Homo sapiens: one gene and its partners. The protein of the gene in region 1 interacts with the protein of each later gene in a biochemical or structural test. Each region holds a gene or a part of one and is shown on either strand. Other genes may lie near its edges.

The links. The genes of interacting proteins can lie anywhere in the genome.
Region 2: the proteins of UBE2D2 (region 1) and BIRC3 form a complex in vitro, tested with the Homo sapiens proteins (9 studies listed by BioGRID and IntAct, with this or other methods).
Region 3: the proteins of UBE2D2 (region 1) and RBX1 form a complex in vitro, tested with the Homo sapiens proteins (50 studies listed by BioGRID, with this or other methods).

Annotation. Positions count from the first base shown.
Region 1 is NC_000005.10:139,619,945-139,627,804, reverse strand, and holds part of UBE2D2 (ubiquitin-conjugating enzyme E2 D2), read right to left. Parts: intron 4,438-7,860; coding exon 4,344-4,437; intron 1,050-4,343; coding exon 1,004-1,049; 3' UTR 1-1,003.
Region 2 is NC_000011.10:102,313,548-102,320,913, reverse strand, and holds the start of BIRC3 (baculoviral IAP repeat-containing protein 3), read right to left. Parts: upstream 3,431-7,366; 5' UTR 3,343-3,430; intron 1-3,342. UniProt on the Homo sapiens protein: Multi-functional protein which regulates not only caspases and apoptosis, but also modulates inflammatory signaling and immunity, mitogenic kinase signaling and cell proliferation, as well as cell invasion and metastasis.
Region 3 is NC_000022.11:40,961,378-40,968,807, reverse strand, and holds part of RBX1 (E3 ubiquitin-protein ligase RBX1), read right to left. Parts: intron 4,762-7,430; coding exon 4,691-4,761; intron 1,010-4,690; coding exon 924-1,009; intron 1-923. UniProt on the Homo sapiens protein: E3 ubiquitin ligase component of multiple cullin-RING-based E3 ubiquitin-protein ligase (CRLs) complexes which mediate the ubiquitination and subsequent proteasomal degradation of target proteins, including proteins involved in cell cycle progression, signal transduction, transcription and transcription-coupled nucleotide excision repair.

The DNA of each region.
Region 1 (7,860 bases):
ATGATCTTAAAATGCAACCAGTATAAATGAACATTTCAGAAGTGGGAGAAAATCCACCACTAATCTCAGCTAGACAAACTTCTTAAAAATGAAAAAGCCTATTCACACAAAATTATATGTAATGACTGTAGTAACCAGTTTATTACACAGATTAATCATTCTTGAAAGTACAAGCTCCAGAGGAGCAATTGGGTCTTTAAATATACACAAGTATTTCCATCAAATGAATTTTCACCCTTACATCCAAATAGACCTAAGCGGTTAAAAACATAAGAAAAATAAGAGCTATTAGCTATGTATTAACTGAGAAACCACATACAAACCAAAGAATATGGAAGAGAGAAAGAAGGGCTGAAAGGCCAAAGGTTGAAGGGGTAGGGAGATGTAAAAGAGTTGGGAACAAAGCCCATCACACTTGATGTACTAATAGCTCCAATCCATTTAAATGTTGACCAGTTAAACTTAGACCTTAAAATGCAGGATGTGGGTAGAGTTTAATCTGGTTGGTCATAACTTTCACCTAAGACGTAGCTCCTTCGGAATAAAATGAATACAGACACAGCTTCATGTTCTTCACCTTGCTTTTCATAACTGTTTTGAGTTTAAATGGATTCCACTTAAAAATAATCTCCTATAGGTGAGTGGAGCCTTTTCTTTCCCATCCAAGCACACACCATACCCACCACCCCCCTCACACCTTGCTGTTATCCAAATTTAAGTCAATAAGAAAAGCTTTTAGTCTCACACCTAGGTAATGCCTGTAGAACTGGCTTGTCACACACACACTTCTCTGCTAGGAGGCAATGTTGGTACAGAAGTACAGTATTTCTAGTTTGTTGTTCCAAGTATGTACAACACGCAGCACTGCTGTATCAGGTAAACATGTGCACAGGGGAAGATGAGGCGTGGGCTCATAGAAAGCAGTCAAATGGAAATCAAAAGGACTTTCTCTTTCAGAGTTCCCCTATCTTTATTTGTAGAGGTTATCCAATAATTTCTTTAATTACATCGCATACTTCTGAGTCCATTCCCGAGCTATTCTGTTGTACCTGTACACACAAAGAGAAGCTTGGCTTAACATAGGTGTGGAGTCAGTAAGCAACAGATTCCATTCATTATCCCATCAAGTAACTTGAAGAGAGTAGCTTATAGGACATTCAAGGAAAGGCCCCTTTCTATCCCAAATTTCTGATAAGGATTAATTCAATGATAATGGGAAGGAGCTGTAAAATGTGAAAGTCTCCTTTAATTGCTACTTATAGAGGGTTCTGATTAAATTTTAGTATTTGTTGGCATATACCTTATTCCATACTTGATTGGCCTATTTCTACAAAAGATGTCCACTCAATTCATTCATTTAAAGTACTTGAAATTATATGATTCTACATTACATAGTTCTTGAACTCATATACTAATAATGATTAAACCGACAGAAGGCTGGGCATGTTGGCTCACACCTGTAATCCCAGCACTTTGGGAGGCTGAGTCGGGTGGATCACTTGAGCCCAGGCGTTTCACACCAGCCTGGGCAACATGATAAAACCCTGTCTCTACAAAAAAATACAAAAATTAGCAGGGTGTGGTGGCGCATGACTATAGTCCCAGCTACTCAGGAGGCTGAGGTGGGAAGATCGTTTGAGCTCAGGAGGCAGAGGTTGCAGTGAGCTGAGATTGCAATACTGTACCATAGCCTGGGTGACAGAGTGAGGCTCTGTCTCAAAAAAAAAGGGGGAAAAAAAACCAAACTTTCCTTTCATATCAATAAAACAATTGGTTCTGGTAGAACTAATTTCAACAATTTGGTTGACAAAATGAATGGGTTTATTGCTTCAGAAGAACATTTGAATAAAGTAAGCAGAGCAAATGATTCTATAATTCTCCTATTAAAAAACGGGTGCTAGGCCGGGTGTGGTGGCTCACGCCTGTAATCCCAGCACTTTGGGAGGCTGGAGCAGCTGGATCACTTGAGGTCAGGAGTTCCAGACCAGCCTGGCCAACATGGCAAAATCCCGTCTCTACTGAAAACACAAAAATTAGCCAGGCATGGTGATGTGCGCCTGTAATCCCAGCTACTCAGGAGGCTGAGGCACAGGAATCACTTGAGCCTGGGAGGCAGAGGCTGCAGTGAGCCAAGATTGTGCCACTGCATTCCACCTGGGCAACGGAGCAAGACTCTGTCTCAAAAAAAAAAAAATTAGCTGGATGTGATGGCATCTGCCTGTGGTCCCAGCTACTTGGGAAGCTCAGATGGGAGGACTACTTGAGCCTGGGAGGTTGAGGTTACAGTGAGCTGTGATTGTGCCACTGCATTCCAGTCCGGGCAACAGAGCAAGACCCTGCCTCAAAAAAAAAAAAAAAAAAAAAGGGGGGGGGGTGGGGGTGGGTATGCTGGCCTTGCACGGTAACTCATGCCTGTAACAGCAGCACTTTGGGGGGCTGAGGCAGAAGGCCTGCTTGAGGCCAGGAATTAGAGACCAGCCTGTGCAACATAGTGAGATCCTGTCTCTACAAAAAAAAAAAAAAAAAAACAAATTAGCCAGGTGTAGTGGCATGTACTAGCAGTCCCAGCTACTGGGGAGGCTGGAAAGGTGTAGTGGCATGTACTAGCAGTCCCAGCTACTGGGGAGGCTGGGGTGGGAGGATCACTTGAGCCCATGAGTTTGACACTGCAGTGAGCCACGATTGTGCCACTGTACTCCAGTCTGGGCTGAAGAACAAGACCCTGTCTCTGCAAAAAAAAAAGTGGGGGGTTAGAGGGTGGGGGCAGTGCAGTTTGGGAAAGTTCTGTTCAACAGTGTTCAACATTACTCCATGATGACTTGGGAAATGACTTCTGGTAAGCATTCAGACCCACAATTCTAAATATCGGACAAAACAGTTCTCTAATCAAAAAAATTTGACAATAAATTCACAAATAGGAAAAAGCAAGAACCAACTACTGTTAGAATATCCCATTCCCAGTGTTACCTCCACTAAAAACAAAAACGTATCTATGCCTCTCTAATCCACTAGAACTCAAGTTGGAGACGTGAGTCTTGCTCTGTCGCCCAGGCTGAAGTGCAGTGGTGCAATTTCAGCTCACCGCAACCTAAACGTCCTGAGTTTAAGCAATTATCTCAGCCTCTCGAGTAGCTGCGATTACAGGTGCCCGCCACCATGCCCGGCTAATTTTTGTATTTTTAGTAGAGACGGGGTTTCACCCCGTTGGCCAGGCTGGTCTCAAACTCCTGACCTTGTGATCTGCCCACCTCAGCCTCCCAAAGTGCTGGGGTTACAGGCGTGAGCCACTGCGCCCGGCCCTAAAAGAACTATCCACCCTCTCCTATCTAGTTCCTCTTATAACTTCACTGAATACTACATAAAACAGATGTTATTAGTGCTGGGCATGGTGGGCATGCTTATAATCCTAGCTACTCCAGAGGCTGAGGTAGGGAGTTTGAGACCAACCCAGGCAACACAGCAAGACTCCATCTCAAAAGAAAAAAAGAAAAGAAAAAATGCTACTAGAACACTTTTAGCTACTATCTCTTTTGATATCTTGACCACTGTTCAATAATTCATAGTACAATTCTAAAATACCCAAATTCTACATCAAGTTTTGTTTTTAAAAGAAATTTGGGGCTTTCACGTCTAATGGCATTTATTTGCTTTCTTCCTTTAGATTATGTCAAATGGTAGGAAATCAATTCTCTTTTCCCATTAATTGACAAATACCTATGGCAGGCAAATGGGCACTTGATGAAAAGTGCTTTATATATCAAAAGCCAAGCATAAGGCATTAAGCTGTTGAAAAATATACCATAGGAAAGTTTTTGTATGGGTGTGGTGGCTCACACCTGTAATCCCAGCACTTTGGGAGGCCTAGGCAGGCAGATCATTTGAGGTCAGGAGTTCGAAACCAGCCTGGCCAACATGGTAAAAGTCTCTACTAAAACTACAAAAAAAACGAACCTGGCGTGGTGGCCTGCGCCTGTAATCCCATCTACTCGGGAGGCTGAGGCATGAGAATCACTTGAACCCAGGAGGCGGAGGTTGCAGTGAGCCAAGACTGCACCATTGCACTCTAGCCTGGGTGACAGAGTAAGACCCTGTCTCAAAAAAAAACAAACAAAAAAAAAAGTTTTTGTAGACAAGAGGAGTCACGTGAAACAATCAGGGATAAGACTGGCATCATCTACTTATAATAATACTCAATGCATATATTTCTCTTTTCTAGCCCCAGGAGAGTATATTAGGACTTCACTTTAAATATCTGGCCGATATTCAGCCCTTAAACAAGAAAGATTTGTGACAAACATCTCCATCCCACCACAGATAACTTTCCATCTTGAGGCCATACTTACTTTTCTCTATCTGTTTTGTAGATCCGAGCAATCTCAGGCACTAAAGGATCATCTGGATTGGGATCACACAACAGAGAACAGATGGACAAGAGTACTAGAATGAAAAAAATCATATAAATTAGCAGAGGATCAAAGCAAAGGGTTGAGAGAAACATGAGACGCCAAAACATGAGAAAATTCTAAGAATTTATACTGTAATGCCTAGCAGCTTTGTAAGTTTTACTTAACTTTATATTAACAGTAACCAACAAGGATTATTATTATTATTATTATTTCTTTTTTTTTTAGCAGAATTGGGGTTTCACCATGTTGGCCAGGCTGGTCTCGAACTCCTGACCTCAGGTGATCCACCCACCTCGGCCTCCCAAAGTCCTGGGATTACAGGCTTGAACCACCATGCCTGGCCTAATTTTTGTATTTTTAGTAGAGATGGGGTTTCGCCATGTTGGTCAGGCTGGTCTGGAACTCCTGACCTCGTGATTCACCCGCCTCGGCCTCCCAAAGTGCTGGGATTACAAGCGTGAGCCACCACACCTGGCAAATAGTTTTTTTTATTTTTTATTTTTTGAGACGGAGTCTGGCTCTGTCGCCCAGACTGGAGTGCAGTGGCGCGGCGCGGTCTAGGCTCACTGCAAGCTCCGCCTCTCAGGTTCACACCATTCTCCTGCTTCAGCCTCCTGAGTAGCTGGGACTACAGGCACCCGCCACCACGCCCGGCTAATTTTTTGTATTTTTAGTAGAGACGGGGGTTTCACCGTGTTAGCCAGGATGGTCTCGATCTCCTGACCTCGTGATCCGCCCACCTTGGCCTCCCAAAGTGCTGGGATTACAGGCGTGAGCCACTGCACCCAGCCTACCAACAAGGATTTTAAGAAGCTTAAACAGACTTTAGGTTAGGTCATTAAAAAATAAAAATGAAGGCTGGCTGCAGTGGCTCATGCCTGTAATCCCAGCACTTTGGGAGGCGGAGGGGGGTGGATCACGAGATCAAGAGATTGAGACCATCCTGGCCAACATGGTAAAACCCCATCTCTACTAAAAATACAAAAATTAGCTGGGCGTGGTGGTGTGTGCCTGTAGTCCCAGCTACTCAGGAGGCTGAGGCTGGAGAATCGCTTGAACCTGGGAGGTGGAGGTTGCAGTGAGCCGAGATCGTAGCATTGCACTCCAGCCTGGGCGACACAGCAAAAAATCCATCTCCAAAAAATAATAATTATAATAAAAAATAAAAAATAAAATAAAACAAATAGCAGAAAATTAATGTTAAATGACATCTTGGTCTCCCAGATACAAATATAAGCCCCTTTGTGCAAAGTCTCACAACAATCCCATGATGTAAGAAGAGTTGATATGACTGTCTTTATGCCTGAACTCCTAAGGGAGCTGGCCCAGACAGGTGCAGTGACGTGTTCAATGTCCCTGGCTAGTAATTAGAATAGAATTAGAACTTTGTCTAAATTCTAGACCAAGAACATTTTTCAGATCCCATAAAGTTCAATTTTTTAGAAGCCCATATTCAAGGATAAATGGCTTTCAAAATTCCAAGTGCGATGGCTCACTCCTGTAATCACAGCACTTTGGGAGGCCACAGCAGAAGGATCGCTTCAGGCCAAGAGTCTGAGACCAGCCTAGGCAACAGAGTGAGATTCTGTCTCTACAAAAAATAAAAATATTAGCTGGATGTGGTGGCACACTCCTATGGTCCCAGCTACTCAGGAGGCTGAGGTGGGAGGATCACTTACGCCCAAGAGGTTAAGGCTGTATTGAGCTGTGTTCACACCACTGCACTCCAATCTGGGTGACAGAGTGAGACCCTGCCTCAAAAAGAAAAAAAAAAAAGACAGCCACACTACTGAATATTCTTAGCAAAAACGACAACCATAAAATCCAACAATCACTGTTTTCCAGTGGCAGGCACCACATTCAGACAATTGTTTTGTTTAATTTTCAGTTGAAAACAATTCAGTCTAAATCAAGAACATAAATGCAAACACTTGCCCCTAAATGGGGATGGTCATACACTCATTACAGAGAATACAACATACTTCTATGAATGTCTCAAATTCTCTTCAGTGACAATTTAGAATCTCATCTAAGCCATTTCCTCGGTGACAACCTGGGATGTAGCAGACAAATCTCAATAGTGTAATTTCCTTTGTTCAAATCTGTCATTAACTTATGTTTTAAAATATTTATTTATTTATGTATGTATTTATTTAGAGACAGGGTCTCACTCTGTCGCCCAGGCTGGAGTGCAGTGGCATGATCTTGGCTCATTGCAGCCTAAACCTCCTGGGCTCAAGTCATCCTCCCACCTCACTCTCCAGGTAAGACTACAGGTGAGTGCCACCATGTGTAGCTAATTTTCTTTGTATTTTTTGTAGAGGTTGGGTTTTGCCATGTTGGCCAGGCTAGTCTTGATCTCCTAGGCTCAAGTGATCCACCTGCCTCGGCCTCCCGAAGTGCTGGGATTACAGGCGTGAACTACCACACCCGGCCATATCTATCATTAACTTATGCATTCCTTACTGAATGCAAAGGGGGCATAAAGTCACTGATTACATTAAGTTCAGTAGCCTCTGACAAAATAAATTTAAATCCTTCTATACTAATGCTAATAGAGCTCAGCCATCTTTCTTTTCTCTAATAGGTGTTCTGTACCAAGAGATAATAACTCTCAGCCCATTTTACTCCCAACACATAAATTCAGCAGGGAAAGGATTCGCTCATATTCCTACCAAATCTATCCTATAGAGATCAAGGGCTTCTGAGAAGTAAAGAAATAGTTGGCATGCCCTATTCAGTTTGGTAACAAAAATGCTATTTCCTTGCCTTAAGAGTATATGAAAAGTTTTTTTAAAAAATCAGGAGAGATGTTTTCTGACTCTTCATTCCTGTTACCCACAATTCTGGCAGCTGGCATTCCAAAAACATTTTCCTATTGTCAGGTGTCATCACCTGAAGCCCTCTTCAAGCATAGAACATTCTAACATCAATTAGGAAAGACTTCATGTATTTCCTGGAAATGACAACAGGGAAGTTAGAAATTTTTGAATGTTCCTTTAACTTATTCTTCTAAATATTCTAATAAGTCAACTTTAAAGGACAGGTTTTAAAGAAAGGGCTTTTCTTTCTTTCCAGGAAAGGAGAGTACTGGCTATCTGGACCTTGTGAAAAGATTTTTAGTACACTACTTAGCTTCTTGATTTCATGAAGAATTCATTTTGGTTTCTAATATACTGATATGGTTTGGATCTGTGTCCCCACACAAATCTCATGTTCAACTGTAATCCCCAACGTTGGAGGTGGGGCCTGGTGGGAGGCGACTGGATTATGGGGGTGTATCCTTCATGAATGGTTTAGCACGACCCCTTTGGTGCTGTTCTTGTGATAGAGTTCTCATGAGATCTGGCTGTTTAACAGTGTGTGGCACCTCCCCCATCTCTCTCTTGGTCCTGCTACTGCCATGTGAGACAGGTGGCTCCCCCTTTGCCTTCTGCCATGAGTAAAAGCTCCC
Region 2 (7,366 bases), on another chromosome or scaffold:
AGCTGAGCAGCAGCTGTGCCCTTTAGAGAGGGAACATGTTCTCTTTGATTCCCTGACACTGGGACTGACTGTTCTGGTAGTCTCCACTAACAGTAACAGTCTAGCAATAACAGACTGTTGCTATTTGTCATTGAACTGGCACTATTGTTTTTCTTACAGCAGAATTATGAGAAAGTGAAATCAATGTAACACATGTGTCCATCAAAAGTAACAAAAATGAAAAGTAGAGAAAAAGGACATATGTTTTGAGAAAAATAGGATAATTTTTGTCTTTGTGGAAAGGAAGGATATTCCTTCATATCAAATACGTAAACAGAGTATGCTTTCATTTAAAAGAGACACCCCACAAGGCCTCATGCCATGGCTCACTCCTGTAATCCCAGCACTTTGGGAGGCTGAGGTAGATGGATTGCTTGAGCCCAGGTGTTTGAGACCAGCCTCAAACTGGGTGACTTGGCAAAACACCATCTCTACAAAGAAACTCAAAAATTAGCCAGACATGGTGGCACCTGCCTGTGGTCCCAGCTACTTGAGAGGCTGAGGCAGGAGGTTCACTTGAGCCCATGAGGCAGAGCTTGCAGTGTGAGACTGCATAACTGCACTCCAAACTGGGTGACAGAGCAAGACCCTGTCTCAAAAAAAGAGAGAGAGAGAGAAAGAGAGACACTGAGAGTTTTTCTCATTTATATCACCTCCATTTGAGTTTGCAAACCCCTTACACAAATCTTATCCTAAAGAAGCTTTAGGTCAGGCGTGGTGGCTCACGCCTGTAATCCCAGCACTTTGGGAGGCCAAGGAAAGCAGATAACTTGAGATCAGGAGTTCGAGACCAGGCTGGCCAACATGGTGAAACCCTGTCTCTACTAAAAATCCAAAAAAAAAAACCATCGGGCGTGGTGGCACGCACCTGTATTTCCAGCTACTCAGGAGACTGAAGCAGGAGAATCACTTGAACCCGGGAGGTGAAGGTTGCAGTAAGCCAAGATCACACCACTGCACTCCAGCAAGGCATATATTTGTGGAAATTTAGGCAACAACTATACAATAAATATACACAAATATGCCAAGATGTCAACCCTAGATCACTTCAACCTCTGTCCTAATCATTTCCAACACCTAGATGCAACCCTGCAGACTGGGACCAGCATCACTTAAGACTCCTCTGCCATCCCTTAGCAATAGGCTCAGCTCCCTAGCCCATGCCCTATGCACCTCTTCTAAACCTTCAACACCTTCCTCAAATTTCTCCACTGCACTCCATCTCATTTTCAGTCAATTACTTTGCCTTCTGTTTCTCAAAGAAAAGAGACATCATTGAGCAGGAACCTTCTCACGTTCTCATATCCAAGCCGTTTTGGCTCACAACCTACTTGCTGTCTCAGTTAAAGACTTGCCCCCTTATGGGATCCTACACTGTCCTACTGCCTCAGAAATCTTGTTCTTAATCCCATCCCCTCATTGCTTCAACTCTCATTCCTGTCACTCTCGACTGGCCTTTTTCCTTTCACATAACCATGCTTAAATCTATCTCAACTTTCAAATGAAAGAAATTTTTAAAATTCTCTTTCGGCCGGGTGTGGTGGCTCATGCCTGTAATCCCAGCACTTCAGGAGGCTGAGGCGAGTGGATCACGAGGTCAGGAGACTGAGACCATCCTGGCTAACACGGTGAAACCCCGTCTCTACTAAAAAAAATACAAAAAATTAGCCGGGTGTGGTGGCATGCACCTGTAGTCCCAGCTGCTCAGGAGGCTGAGGCAGGAGAATCGCTTGAACCCGGGAGGTGGAGGTTGCAGTAAGCCGAGACTGCACCACTGCACTCCAGCCTGGGTGACAGAGTGAGACTCTGTCTCAAAAAAAAAAAAAAAAAATCCTCTTTCAACCACACTTTCCACTCTAGCAACTACCCTGTATCACCCCTTCTCTTCACAGCCAAGCAAACTGGACATGTGTGTATGGTTAATGTCTCCATTTTCCCTCTCCCATTTACTCATTAAGTCAGCATCACTTAAAACTGCTTTCGGTGTTAATAACACCAATGGCTTTTTTGCTAAAACCAATGGAAATGTTTGCATCTGACACTGGGACACACTTCCTCTTAGAAATGTCCCATTCCCTGGGCTTCTCTGATACCAAGCTCTTGGGATTCTTCTTTCATTTCTAGTGGTTCCTTCTCAGATTGGCTCAGTCCCCAGCCTCTCCTCTTCTGACTCATTCATTTAACCTACCAAGAAGGCAACCTCCCCAGTCCCAGGGCTGTTGGGCATCCCTACCCTTTGGGCATGCAGCACATCCATTTTTCTGACACTGGAGGGCAAGTGTGCCTTTTCTTTCTGCCTCCCGCTAGACAGTAAGCTCTTTTAGAATGGCAACTATTAATATGTTTCATCTCTGTACCTGCCCTCCCACTCATAGCATCTGCAGAGCTTGGTATATGGGGTAGACACGAAGACTTCCCGTTGAAGAAGTAAATGACTGAGACCTGAGTGACCACAGTACTTCTATCAATTTTATATTAATGACCACAGAGTCAGCTCAGTGATTGATTAGTATCAGGCTTTGGAGTCAGACATCGGGGGTGCCCAATACCAAGCAGTCCGGTAACCAGAAGCATGACCTTGCACAAGTAAATCTCCAAGAGCCTCAGTTTCCTCATTGTCAAATGGAGATAATTATGGTACCTGCTTCTTAAGATTATGATAATTAAACGTGAAAAATACATGTAAAGTCTTCAGAGACAAACCTAGCACATAGCAGGTAGCAGTACTTAATGTTAGCAATAAATAATAGCAAATAAAGTCAATATTTAATATTATTGTTACGTTAGCATCAGGTACATGCCTTCGACAATGTATTGATCAGAGTAAGAGCACTACTAGGTTTCCATGCTGATCACCAGGAAGACAACCAAAAACTGCTGTCTTCCTACCACCGCTTGGAAACATGCGTCCATTTGCTCATTAAACGTTTTACTTCCTTCCTGTGCCAGAGCTCTGCCTTAGGCTCTGTCCTGAAATTTATTTGGCACCTGCAAAGGCCCAGTGATAACTCTTGGCAACCGAATCAAAATGCCACAACTTCACAATTCCACTGGCTCACTCCAAACGTGAAATAGAAATTGAGCACCTGGAACCTATCTAGAGCCTGCTTTTGGGCCCTGGTGTTTGATAACTGCGCCCCACCCACTGACTCTCAACCTCTGCAGCGCCCCGGGCTCTAGCCCTAAGCGCCCCTCGGCCAGCCGCTGGCACATCTCTTACACCAGGGGAGGCGCGCGCGCGCGCACACATACACACACACACACGCACACACACACACACACACACCAGCCTTCCTTGCCCACCTGCTGCCCAGAGGCCGACGACGCATGCACCAGCAAGGACAAGCCCAGTCTTTTCAAGCGACACCTGTCGCCTGGCCTTTTCCGTGCCGGAGGGCGCGAGTCTCACGCTGTCTTTTAAATGCGTCACCCAAATCCCCACCCCTATCTGTACCAGGCGTTCCGCACTCCTCCCAGTGGTTTGCATGTGCACTGGTGCTTTCCTTTTAGGACTTAGGGGAACTCCAGCGGTAATAACCACACACACTTCCTCTTAATCAGTGGCCTGGCAAACCCACTCGGGGATTTCCATGACCCAAAAGCATGACTCTTAACCGTGGCATATCTTCGCGGCATTTACTGAAAGACATTTGCTTCATTGCTCGTGGGTCAGAGGAAATCTTGATAACAACCCATATAGAGAGGACGATCATTGCTTAGCCTGCCTGGAAAAGGTCAATATGCCCTGTTCTCCACCCTCCATCCGCCATACACTTTACACGTAAAAAGGTTAGGTTTTTCAATCTTCTACTATAGCTGCAGAAGTCCAGCATTTAAAAAAAAAAAAATCGAAACTTTGTGAAATATTTCTATTTATTTTTACTTTTTGTTCTGATCAAGAAAGTAAGAGGTGAAAGGAAATGTAGGGGTATGTGAAAAAAATCATGCAGTTCTCCTTTGCAGTTTATTTTACCATTTTAAAGATTGAAATGGCTTGGTAAATTTTCTGTATGGAAATACTTTTGTTTGGTTTGGTGAGTTGTTTTTTTTTTTTTTTTAATAAGTAGGGTGGAGTTGGCTACTTAAAAAAATCCCTCCTTTATAGCCTTTGATCTCACAGGGCAGGTTTCTGAGTTGCAGTGCCATTCTCAGGGAAACCTGACATCTTTGAGTCTAATTGCACTGCCATATTTCCCTCAACGTTCTCTAAGCAGTAAATTTAAGCAACTTTATCTGAGAGCCATCCGTACCAGGGTAACAGATGGATTTGGAGAGCTCATCTGATTTTCTATCTTCCAGTAGATCAAAGACAATTACCAACCAGAGACAGAGCCCATAAAGATTATTGGAGACTTCATCGTTCTGTGGAAACAGCATCCAGTGCATTCTGCACGCAATTGGACTGAGCTGAGGCATCCTCTTGTTTAGGTGGACTTGGCTGTCCATAGCAGCTGAAGTTCCAGTTGGAATTATTTCAGAAAGACTAAGTGTATTTATCATATGGAGATTTTAATCCACATTTGAGTCTGCTTCAATCAAGACTTTCTAAGCCATTTTCAACTCACTCCTGAGATTATTGAAAATAATTTGCAGGCCTTACACATTTTTGATTATGTACTCACCAGAAGAATTTTGAAAAGCTCTGCATTCCCTTGCCCATTTTTAACTTAACATTAAAACATAAAGCTCTTGTACATGTCAAGAATCTACAAAATGTAAACATAGATATTTTCAGAAAAAATTGATAGAGCACTCTTTTAAATGTATTTGATGGATCCTAATACCATAGTAATTTGACATACATGATCATCCATGAAGCAATTATCAGGTCATCTTTAATAACTGAAAATATTTTATCATTGCCTTTTGTCATTGAACATTCCAATTCCCCTACAGAATGTTAATACATGTTTGTACTGAACATCTTTTATCATCTCTCTGTCACATATCTCTGAAACAAATACATATTAGAACTTGAAATCTATTTTTTTCTCTGGGATCATAAGGATCTAAGTGTTAAAAAAAAAAAAAATTCCTCTTTGACCAGGCATGGTGGCTCACGCCTATAATACCAGCACTTTGGGAGGCGAAGGTGGGTGGATCATCTGAGGTCAGGAGTTCAAGACCAGTCTGGCCAACATGGTGAAACCGGTCTCTCCCAAAAATACAAAAATGAGCCAAGTGTGGTGGTGCACGCCTGTAGTCCCAGCTACTTGGGAGGCTGAGGCACAAGAATCACTTGAACCTGGGAGGCAGAGGTTGCAATGAGTCAAGACAGTGCCACTGCACTCCAGCCCTGGAACAGAGTGAGACTGCATCTCAAAAAAAAAAAAAAAAAATCCTCTTTGATTACATTATCATTGATATTGTTTTCATTACTTTTAAAGCATAATTGGTCAATACAATATAAAAATATCGTAAATGTTAATAACTGCATTACAAATACAATTTAAGGGGGTGGCAGCTTGTATTTTAAGCAAGTTTTTCAAGTGTGCAGTCATGAATATTACCTATAGCTATAATATGTTAGGGTTCAGCACAGATTCTGTTCCTTTTTTCATTTCTACAGACATAAATGTTGTAAACCTTATTTCACAGAAGTAAGTAGATAAGTAGATAGGCCCAGAAGAAACATTATTATGGCAATTTTTTCACAATTTAAAAAATATGTTTTATATTCCAAAAATCATTTAGTGATCTCTAATCAAAATATGTAATTACTTATCAGTAGACAACTCAATTTTGTTGAAATTGGTGGTTTAGAAACCACTGAACTTTTGGTATCCAGATACAGTTGACAGAGTTAGCAAATTAAAACAGAGAACACCTAGTTAAATTTTGGTTTAATATAAACAATGAATGCATTTCCAGTATAAGAATGTATTGTGCAATATTTGGCACCTAGCTATACTAATAAGTTATTCATTAGTTATCTGAAATTTAGATTCAGTTTGGTGTTCTGTATTTTACCTGGCAACCCTATATCCAGATATTAGAGTCATTCATTTTCTCAACACTAATACAGATCGATTATTTCAAATCATCCAGGAGGTTTCTACACCCAGAGAAATATACGATTTTAAAACTCATGATAGGTGAGAGGTGAGCCTGTCTTTTAAGGGAAGACAGAGAACCATTGTGAAAAGGGAGATGAGAAGACAGAACAACCCTGGCAACCTTCACAGTTCTTGTTTTCAAGCAGATCAGTTTTGGGAGAAGCTACATATGGAAGTTGAGAGTGAGACTATTAATTCCTTAAAACTATTTGAGCTCCCACCTCCCTGTTGGTAAGTCTTTGTAAACACCCAGGGGCACACTTACCCCAGTTTAAAAACTATGGCTGGCCAGGCACATTGGCTCACACCTGTAATCCCAGCACTTTGGGAGGCTGAGGTGTGTGGATCACCGGAGGTCAGGAGTTCGAGACCAGCCTGGTCAACATGGCAAAACCCCATTTCTACTAAAAATACAAAGATAAGCGGGTCATGGTGGCAGGTGCCTGTAATCCCAGCTACTTGGGAGGCTGAGGCAGGAGAATTGCTTGAACCCGGGGAGGCAGAGGTTACAGTGAGCTGAGATCTCGCTACTGCACTCCAGCCTGGGAGAGAGAGCAAGAATCCATTGCCAAAAAAGTAAATAAATAAAAATAAATAAAGACCATGGCTTAAGAAATCCCTGAATTGACTGAGTCTCGCGTTTTTCAAACTGGTCATGAGAGCTAGGGTCAGGCCTAGTAGGTTGGAAGCAAATTAACATGTCTGCTTTGCAACATTTTGCACAATTAAAAAAAAAATGGTTTCCCTAGATAAATGTGTATGGGCAAGCACTGTATATATTTGTTCACTGCATTATTCTAGTACTAGTAGAGTGTCTGCTCAAAGGTGCTCAGTAAACCTTTGTTTACTGACTAACAAAAATAGAGCCAATCTATCCAAACTATCCACTTGGGCTTTCTCTATTCTAAACCTGCATCCACATCTTTAATGGTGTAACCTACCTTGCATTTTCTTTCTAACTCTTTGTATATCTCACATACTTTATTAAAAAAACTCCTCTTTTCCTTTCAACATCCAGCTGTTATCCTTGTGCAGGGGGCATGCTAATCTTCTTGGTAGGGTTCCAATTTTAGTATATGTGCTGCCAAAGCAAGCACAGCCTAAATATATTTTCTCTCCAAATACTCTTATTTTCTTCCAAGCCAGTGAATTCCAAGCTCCAAATACTCTTTTCACGACAGAAATACACAAGGAAACCTTTGAGGAAAGTGAAAGCTAGACACAAACTGTATAGCCATTACTATCTTCAGTTTTCTAGGTTTGTTTGTGGT
Region 3 (7,430 bases), on another chromosome or scaffold:
ATATATATATACACACAACCATGTAAATACCGGGACATATAAGAGATAGTCAGAAAATCTCCTAAGAAGCTGTCCTGTTGCTGATGGCTAGCTCCAGCAAGCCGGAGCAGGGGCCTACAGTGGGAAATTCATATTCTGTGGTATACCCTTTCAACCATTTAAATTTTTAAAAGTTTACCAGGTCATGTTTTATTTATATAACAATAAAATCTAATCAGGATAGCCATAAATGCTATATCAGAATTAATCACTGTGAAATAAACCAGTGAAATATGATAAGTGGATACAAGTCTAGCCCAAAGCTACCTGACATTAGGTAGTCCATGGAGCCTCATTAGGATGTAATTCTGGAAATATTTAAGAGTTCATAGATTATCACATTTTCTACTTTCACAGACCGTAGAAGGTTGGGAAACCTGCCGGGCACGGTGGCTCACACCTGTAATCCCAGCACTTTGGGAGACCGAGGCAGGCAGATCAGTTGAGATCAGGAGTTCAAGACCAGCCTGGCCAACATGGTGAAACCCAATCTCTACGAAAAATACAAAAATTAGCTGTGCATGGTGGCACACACTTGTAATCCCAGCCACTTGCTAGGCTGAGGTGGGAGGATCGCTTGAATCTGGGAGGTGGACGTTGCAGTGAGCCAAGATAGCACCACTGCACTCCAGCCTGGGCAACAAAGCGAGACTCCGTCTCAAAAAAAAAAAAAAAAAAAAAAAGGTTGGGAAACCCTAGGCTGCAAATGTCTAATGTTGGCTAATCCTTTGTGCATTTTCCATATAGATAAGTCCTAGCTTAAGTAACCAAAAACTAGTTTTAAAAAAAACAAGGCATGTATCATGTCTCCATCCCCCAAGACCACGCTCCTTTCAGCCTGAGGCAAGTCAAAAAGCCCCGTCAAAACAACCAAAGATACCTACTTTTGGAATTCCCACTCTCTGTTGTCCAATGGACACACCTGTCGTGTTTTGAGCCAGCGAGAGATGCAGTGGAAGTGAAAAGCATGCTGAAAGAAAACATATATTTTATTAAAAATAACTCTATGCAGGCTCAGCCATCGAGCGACAACAGGTCCCACAGGGTAGTGGCATGGGTGACATATAGTGGGCAAGAAAAGAAAAGAAGACAACGAGAGGCAAAAGTTCAACAACTGATTATATCTTGGTTAGATGCAAGGGTATTTCCAACAAAGCATTTGTTAGAAATGTCATTACTACTAAAGGAAATCATTCAGGAAGCACAGGAGTATGTGCCAGCACTGAGCTCTCTTCTATTTAAGAGAACGTGGAATGTGGCTCCTTGGTCCCATTCAGCCTGTAAGGGGATACTTCCACTTTCTTTGGGAAAGGAGGCCCCTCATCAATGCAGATTTCAAATATCCCCATTCTGGGTCTCTAGCTTCCCTCCCACCCTCCTGCCCCTGGAGAATGCGACCTGTAGGAGCAGAGCCTTCTCCCCAGCCCTTGGTAGAGAAGTGCATGGTCACTGCCGCCCACCCAGAACTGAGACGGGCACTTCCCCAACCTCCCCACACCCAGCTCAGCTCTGGTCAAAGAAACTTTATTTCTAGATTTATTCACAGACATATTGATATTACAAGAGCTCAGTACTTCACGTGCCTTTAATGGGTGAGGGACTTTGTCTTAGGGAATGAGATAAAAGAAAATTGGGGTAAAAGGAAGTATTCTTATGAGGGACAAACGGCACACAAGCAGCCTAAAGAGCATCAAAAGGCTTATTTCATAATCAAGACAAGAAGTAAAAAGACAAGAGTATCAAGAACACTGGTAACTGACAGGGAGCTAGAAGTCTGCTTAGATTTGGGAAAAGGACAATCTGCATGCAGTTTTTTGGCGTGGGCTCATGACATGCAGATGCTAATCACAATGCTTCTGCAATGAGCACTTCTCCCCCTGCTCATGTGCGTATTAGGACAGACGCAGCAAGTGCTTCCTTCATTTCGTCTGTGATTGGTGCACTGTGGTGGGGCACGGGCAGAAATTACTCACCCTAACAAAACAACAAAAGCTTTACAAGCTTCATTTAATAACAACTGAAATCTGGTCGGTACGTCTCCCAAAGTATGTATGGAACTTAAGGGATTATATAATATGGATTATTATCTTGTGAAATGTTTTTTGACAAAGACAAAAATATAATTCAGTAACTAAGAGTGGAATCCACAGCTAGTACACTAGGGATACCCAAGAGGACAAATATTCTCTTAGAGTGACAGCCTTTTGGAAGATCCCTTTTCAGCTGACTCTTGTATAACTCACTGTGAAAAAGAGAAAGAGCAAAATTTCCAAAAGGCAGAAAGCAGAGACATTTTTCTTAACCATCAGGTGTTGGGGTCGGGCTCACCGAAGGGTATTCGACAGCTTCTCCCTCTCCCACCTCACCCACTGAGCACTTTGCAGCAGTACGGTGTCCTGGTAGAGCCCAACTAAGTCAGAGCATACCACGCGCTGGGGAAAAGGGGGCTGTAAAGGAGGTGTCAGGGAGGTGACAGCACCCCTGAACATTTACTAAGATGTATTAATGGATATATTTAGCGGTCAAAGTACAATTTACAGAAGATAAATTTATAGTACTTGACAGTTTACAGAAGATGTTGACATGTATTACCTCATTTGAGGCCTCACATCAACCCTGGCAGGCAAGCATGACAGATATTTTTATCTTCATTTTACAGACAGGAAACTGAAACCCAGACAAGTGACTTGCCTAATTCATGGAGCTGGTTTGTAGAAGACCCAGAACTAGAACCCAGGACTAATCCAGAGCCTTCTGCCACACCATGCTGGCTCTCTTCTACGGCAGGCTCTCTCAGAGAATCTCTCCTTAGCCAAATTTAAGGGGATGTTCACTCTCTTTTCTTTCCACATAAAGGAACATGGTTCTTAGTATATGTCTGTATGCCAGAAAGGGCAAAGAGCCCAATATACTTCCTTTATCCCCATGAACGATTAAAGCTCCCCCATGGCCAACATGGTCTATTGTGAGCCTGGCCAAAGGGTCCCAACAAAGATGGAAGAAGGTGTACCCGAAAGTGCGGGTAGGGGCTGGGCACGGTGGCTCACGCCTGTAATCCCAGCACTTTGGGAGGCCGAGGCTGGCAGATCGCCCCAAGGTCAGGAGTTTAAGACCAGCCTGGCCAACATGGCGAAACCCCATCTCTACTAAAAATACAAAAATTAGCTGGGTGTGGTGGTACACACCTGTAATCCCAGCTACTCGGAAGGCTGAAGCAGGACAATCACTTGAACCCAGGAGATAAAGGTTGCAGTAAGCCGGGACTGCGTCACTGCGCTCCAGCCTGGGCCACATAGTGAGACTCCGTCTCAAAAAAAAAACAAAAAACAAAAAACAAAAAAAAAAACAAAAAACCAGTGTAGGTAGGAAAAAGAGTTGCAACCCAACAGGAAAAACTACTGAGAACACCATCTACACAGTAACACCTCTACCTCAAATTTGTATTTATTTAGATTTTTTTTTTTTTGAGACAGAGTCTCACTTTGTCACCCAGGCTGGAGTGCAGTGGTGTGGTCTCGGCTCACTACAAGCTCCACCTCCCAGGTTCACGCCATTCTCCTGCCTCAGCCTCCCGAGTAGCTGGGACTACAGGCGCCTGCCACCACACCCGGCTAATTTTTTGTATTTTTAGTAGAGACGGGGTTTCACTGTGTTAGCCAGGATGTCTCCATCTGCTGACCTCATGATGCACCCGCCTCGGCCTCCCAGAGTGCTGGGATTACAGGCGTGAGCCACCGCGTCCGGCCTATTTAGATTTTTTTTAACAAGCACTTGTGCTTACTATGTGCCGGGAGTTGTTTAATCACATTTTAACATAAATCATCTAATCCGGATTACAATTTTATGTGGTCCACTATCAGCCCCATTTTATGAGGGAACCCAGGATTGGAGACGTTAAATGCCTTGCCTAACGTCACTTAGCAAGTAAGTCACAAAGACAGGGAATGGTGGTCTGACTCTAGAATCTCTTATCCCTGTGTCATGCTGGGAACTGTGAGTATTCTGTCCCCATGACACAGGAGGCCCTGACAAGACAATTTTAGCTCATGTGACTGGGACTTTACAGCTTAAAGAATGAATTTTTAACACATGCTAGAACTAACATATTTGATATTTGTTATCCTTCACAGCTGTCACACTCTTGGAAGGCCATTCAGTCCAATAAAGCTACACAAAACATTTCTGGCATAAGCCATGTTAAAAAATAATCTTATCTCAGTACATACGCCACACTTAAAACACACATACACAGAGACTTCAACACTCAATTTACTCATCAAACTTAGTTCCATTAGACACCTGGTCTTTAAAAAAGCCTGTTTCAAAGGTACAAAGTTCTACCACGAGAATATTCCAAAGGGTGCATGTAGGTTTTGAAGGCAATTCCCATAGATGAAGCCCCAAAATACTGCTAACAAAATTGGGTCCACTTTATAATTAAGACAAATAAGTGCCTCTTTGCAGTAACTGTAATTTTTACCCTGTAACAGGTGAATAGTATTATGATTTAAAATCTTTTTTACTATTTGTATACCTTTTGGGAGAAAGGTGGACTAGTCATTTTTTTCCCTAGTTATTTTCAAGACTAGCAAAGCAGGAAAAGTGGAAATATGTTTACAAGCCATGCTGACAGGTAAAGATGCTTCCTTACGTTACAGACTCCCCATGCGACAGTACACTCTTCTGAAGTAGCGGACGCCTGGTTAGCTTGACATTCTATGCCTGTGGGAACAAGAGCAACAGGATCACTGGACCTTGGGAGCAGCAACGTTTCAATCTATAGCAGCCAAAACAATTCTCAAGTGGTTAATTAGCCATAATTGTTTTTTAATGAATGTGGGAAAGGAAGAACAGAGAAGACAGAGATAACAGTATGCTTTCTGACGATTTCCTATCCTTGTTTAAAAAGAGTAACAAATGGGAAATGCACATCTCACTCCCGTTGCCCAGGCTACAGTGCAGTGGCATGAGCATGGCTCACTGCAGCCTTGACTTCCTGGGCTTAGGTGATTCTCCCTCAGCCTCCTGAGTAGCTGGGACTACAGGTGCGTGCCACCACACCAGCTAATTGTTTGTATTTTTTGTAGAGATGGAGTTTCACCATGTTGCCTAGACTGAGTTTTTTTCCTTTTGAGATGGAGTTTCCCTCTTGTTGCCCAGGCTGAAGTGCAATAGCACAATCTTGGCTCACTGCAACCTCCGCCCCCCGAGTTCAAGCGATTCTCGTGTCTCAGACTCCCAAGTAGCTGGAATTAACAGGCGCACACCACCATGCCTGGCTAATTTTGTATTTTTAGTAGAGATGGGGTTTCTCCGTGTTGGCCAGGCTGGTCTCAAACTCCTGACCTCAGGTGATCCGCCCACCTCAGCCTCCCAAAGTGCTGGGATTACAGGCATGAGCCACCGCACCTGGCCTGCAATGAGTTCTTGACTGAGATCAAGATCTGATGGGTAAAGCACAACTGGGGATAAATATTCACAGAACAAGAATTACTAATGCATAACTTGCTTTCTCTGATCATAGTAACTAAATGGAGTCTCCCTTCTGAAGAATAAAAAGCTTCAGGAGAAACTATTTAATAGGGGAGAATTACTTCAAACTACTACAGGTGAAAAATAGTAAAACTATGGCTGGGCGTGGTGGCTCACACCTGTAATCCCAGCACTTTGGGAGGCTGAGGCAGGCGGATCACGAGGTCAGGAGTTCAAGACTAGCCCACCCAACATGGTGAAACCTGTCTCTACTAAAAATATGAAAAACTAGCCAGGAGTAGGCCAGGCGCGATGGCTCACTCCTGTAATCTCAGCACTTTGGGAGGCCGAGGCAGGCACATCATGAGGTCAGGACTTTGAGACCATCCTGGCCAACATAGTGAAACACCGTCTCTACTAAAAAAAAAAAAAAAAAATTAGCTGGGCGTGGTGGCGGGTGCCTGTAGTCCCAGCTACTCAGGAGGCTGAGGCAGGAGAATTGCTTGAACCCAGGAGGCGGAGCTTGCAGTGAGCCAAGATTGCATCACTGCACTGGAGCCTGGGCGACAGTGCAAGACTCCGTCTCAAAAAATAAATAAATAAAAATAAAAATAAAAAAATAAATAAAAATTAGCCAGGTGTGTGTGGTGGTGGGCGCCTGTAGTCCCAGCTATTCAGGAGGCTGAGGCAGAAGAATTGCTTGAATCCGGGAGGCAGAGGTTGCAGTGAGCCAAGACTGCGCCACTGCACTCCAGCCTGGGTGACACAGTGAGACTCTGTCTCAAAAAAAAAAAAAAAAAAGTAAAACTATTAAAAAAAACAAAACTAGATGTTAATGGGCATGTGTGGTTTTAGGGGAAGAGATACCATGATAATACCTTTTTCTTTTCACTCTTCGAAAATGTGGAAAGTGGGCCGGGCATGTTGGCTCACACCTGTAATGCCAGCACTATGAGAGGCTGAAGTCAGGAATTCGAGACCAGCCTGACCAACACGGCAAAACCCAATCTCTACTAAAAATACAAAAGTTAGTGGTGCATGGTGGTACATGTCTGCAATCCCAGTTACTTGGGAGGCTGAGGTAGGAGAATTGCTTGAACCCAAGGGGCAGAGGTTGCAGTGAGCCGAAGTTGCACACCACTGTACTCCAGCCTGGGCAAAAGAGCAAGACTCTGTCTCAAAAAACAAACAAACAAACAAACAAACCATAAAAGGCTGGGAGTAGTGGCTCACGCCTGCAATCCCAATGCTTTGGAAGGACGAGGGTGACGGATCACTTGATGTCAGGGTTCGAGACCAGCCTGGCAAACATGGCAAAACCCCCTCTCTACTAAGAAGGCAAAAATTAGCCAGGCATGGTGGTGGATATCTGTAATCCCAGCTACTCAGGAGGCTGAGGCAGGAGAATCACTTGAACCCAGGAGGCAGAGGCTGCAGTGAGCCGAGATCACACCACTGCATTCCAGCCTGGGTGACAGAGTAAGGCTGACACACACACACACACACACAGAGAAAGCAAAGCACTTACTTTTGCTAGCCAGATTCACACTACAGAGTAACTTGGTTTGCCAACTGATAAAAATAAAGAATTGGGGCCAGGCCCGGTGGCTCACGCCTATAATCCCAGCGTTTTGGGAGGCTGAGGCGGGTGGGTCACGAGGTCAGGAGATCGAGCCCATCCTGGCTAACATGGTTTCTACTAAAAATATTTAAAAATTAGCCAGGCGTGGTGGCGGGCACCTGTAGTCCCAGCTACTCAGGAGGCTGAGGCAGGAGAATGGTGTGAACCCGGGAGGCGGAGCTTGCAGTGAGCCAAGATCGCACCACTGCGCTCCAGCCTGGGTAACAGAGCGAGACTCTGTCTCAAAAAATAAAAATAAAAATAATAAAATAAAATAAAAATAAAGAATTGGGTCAGG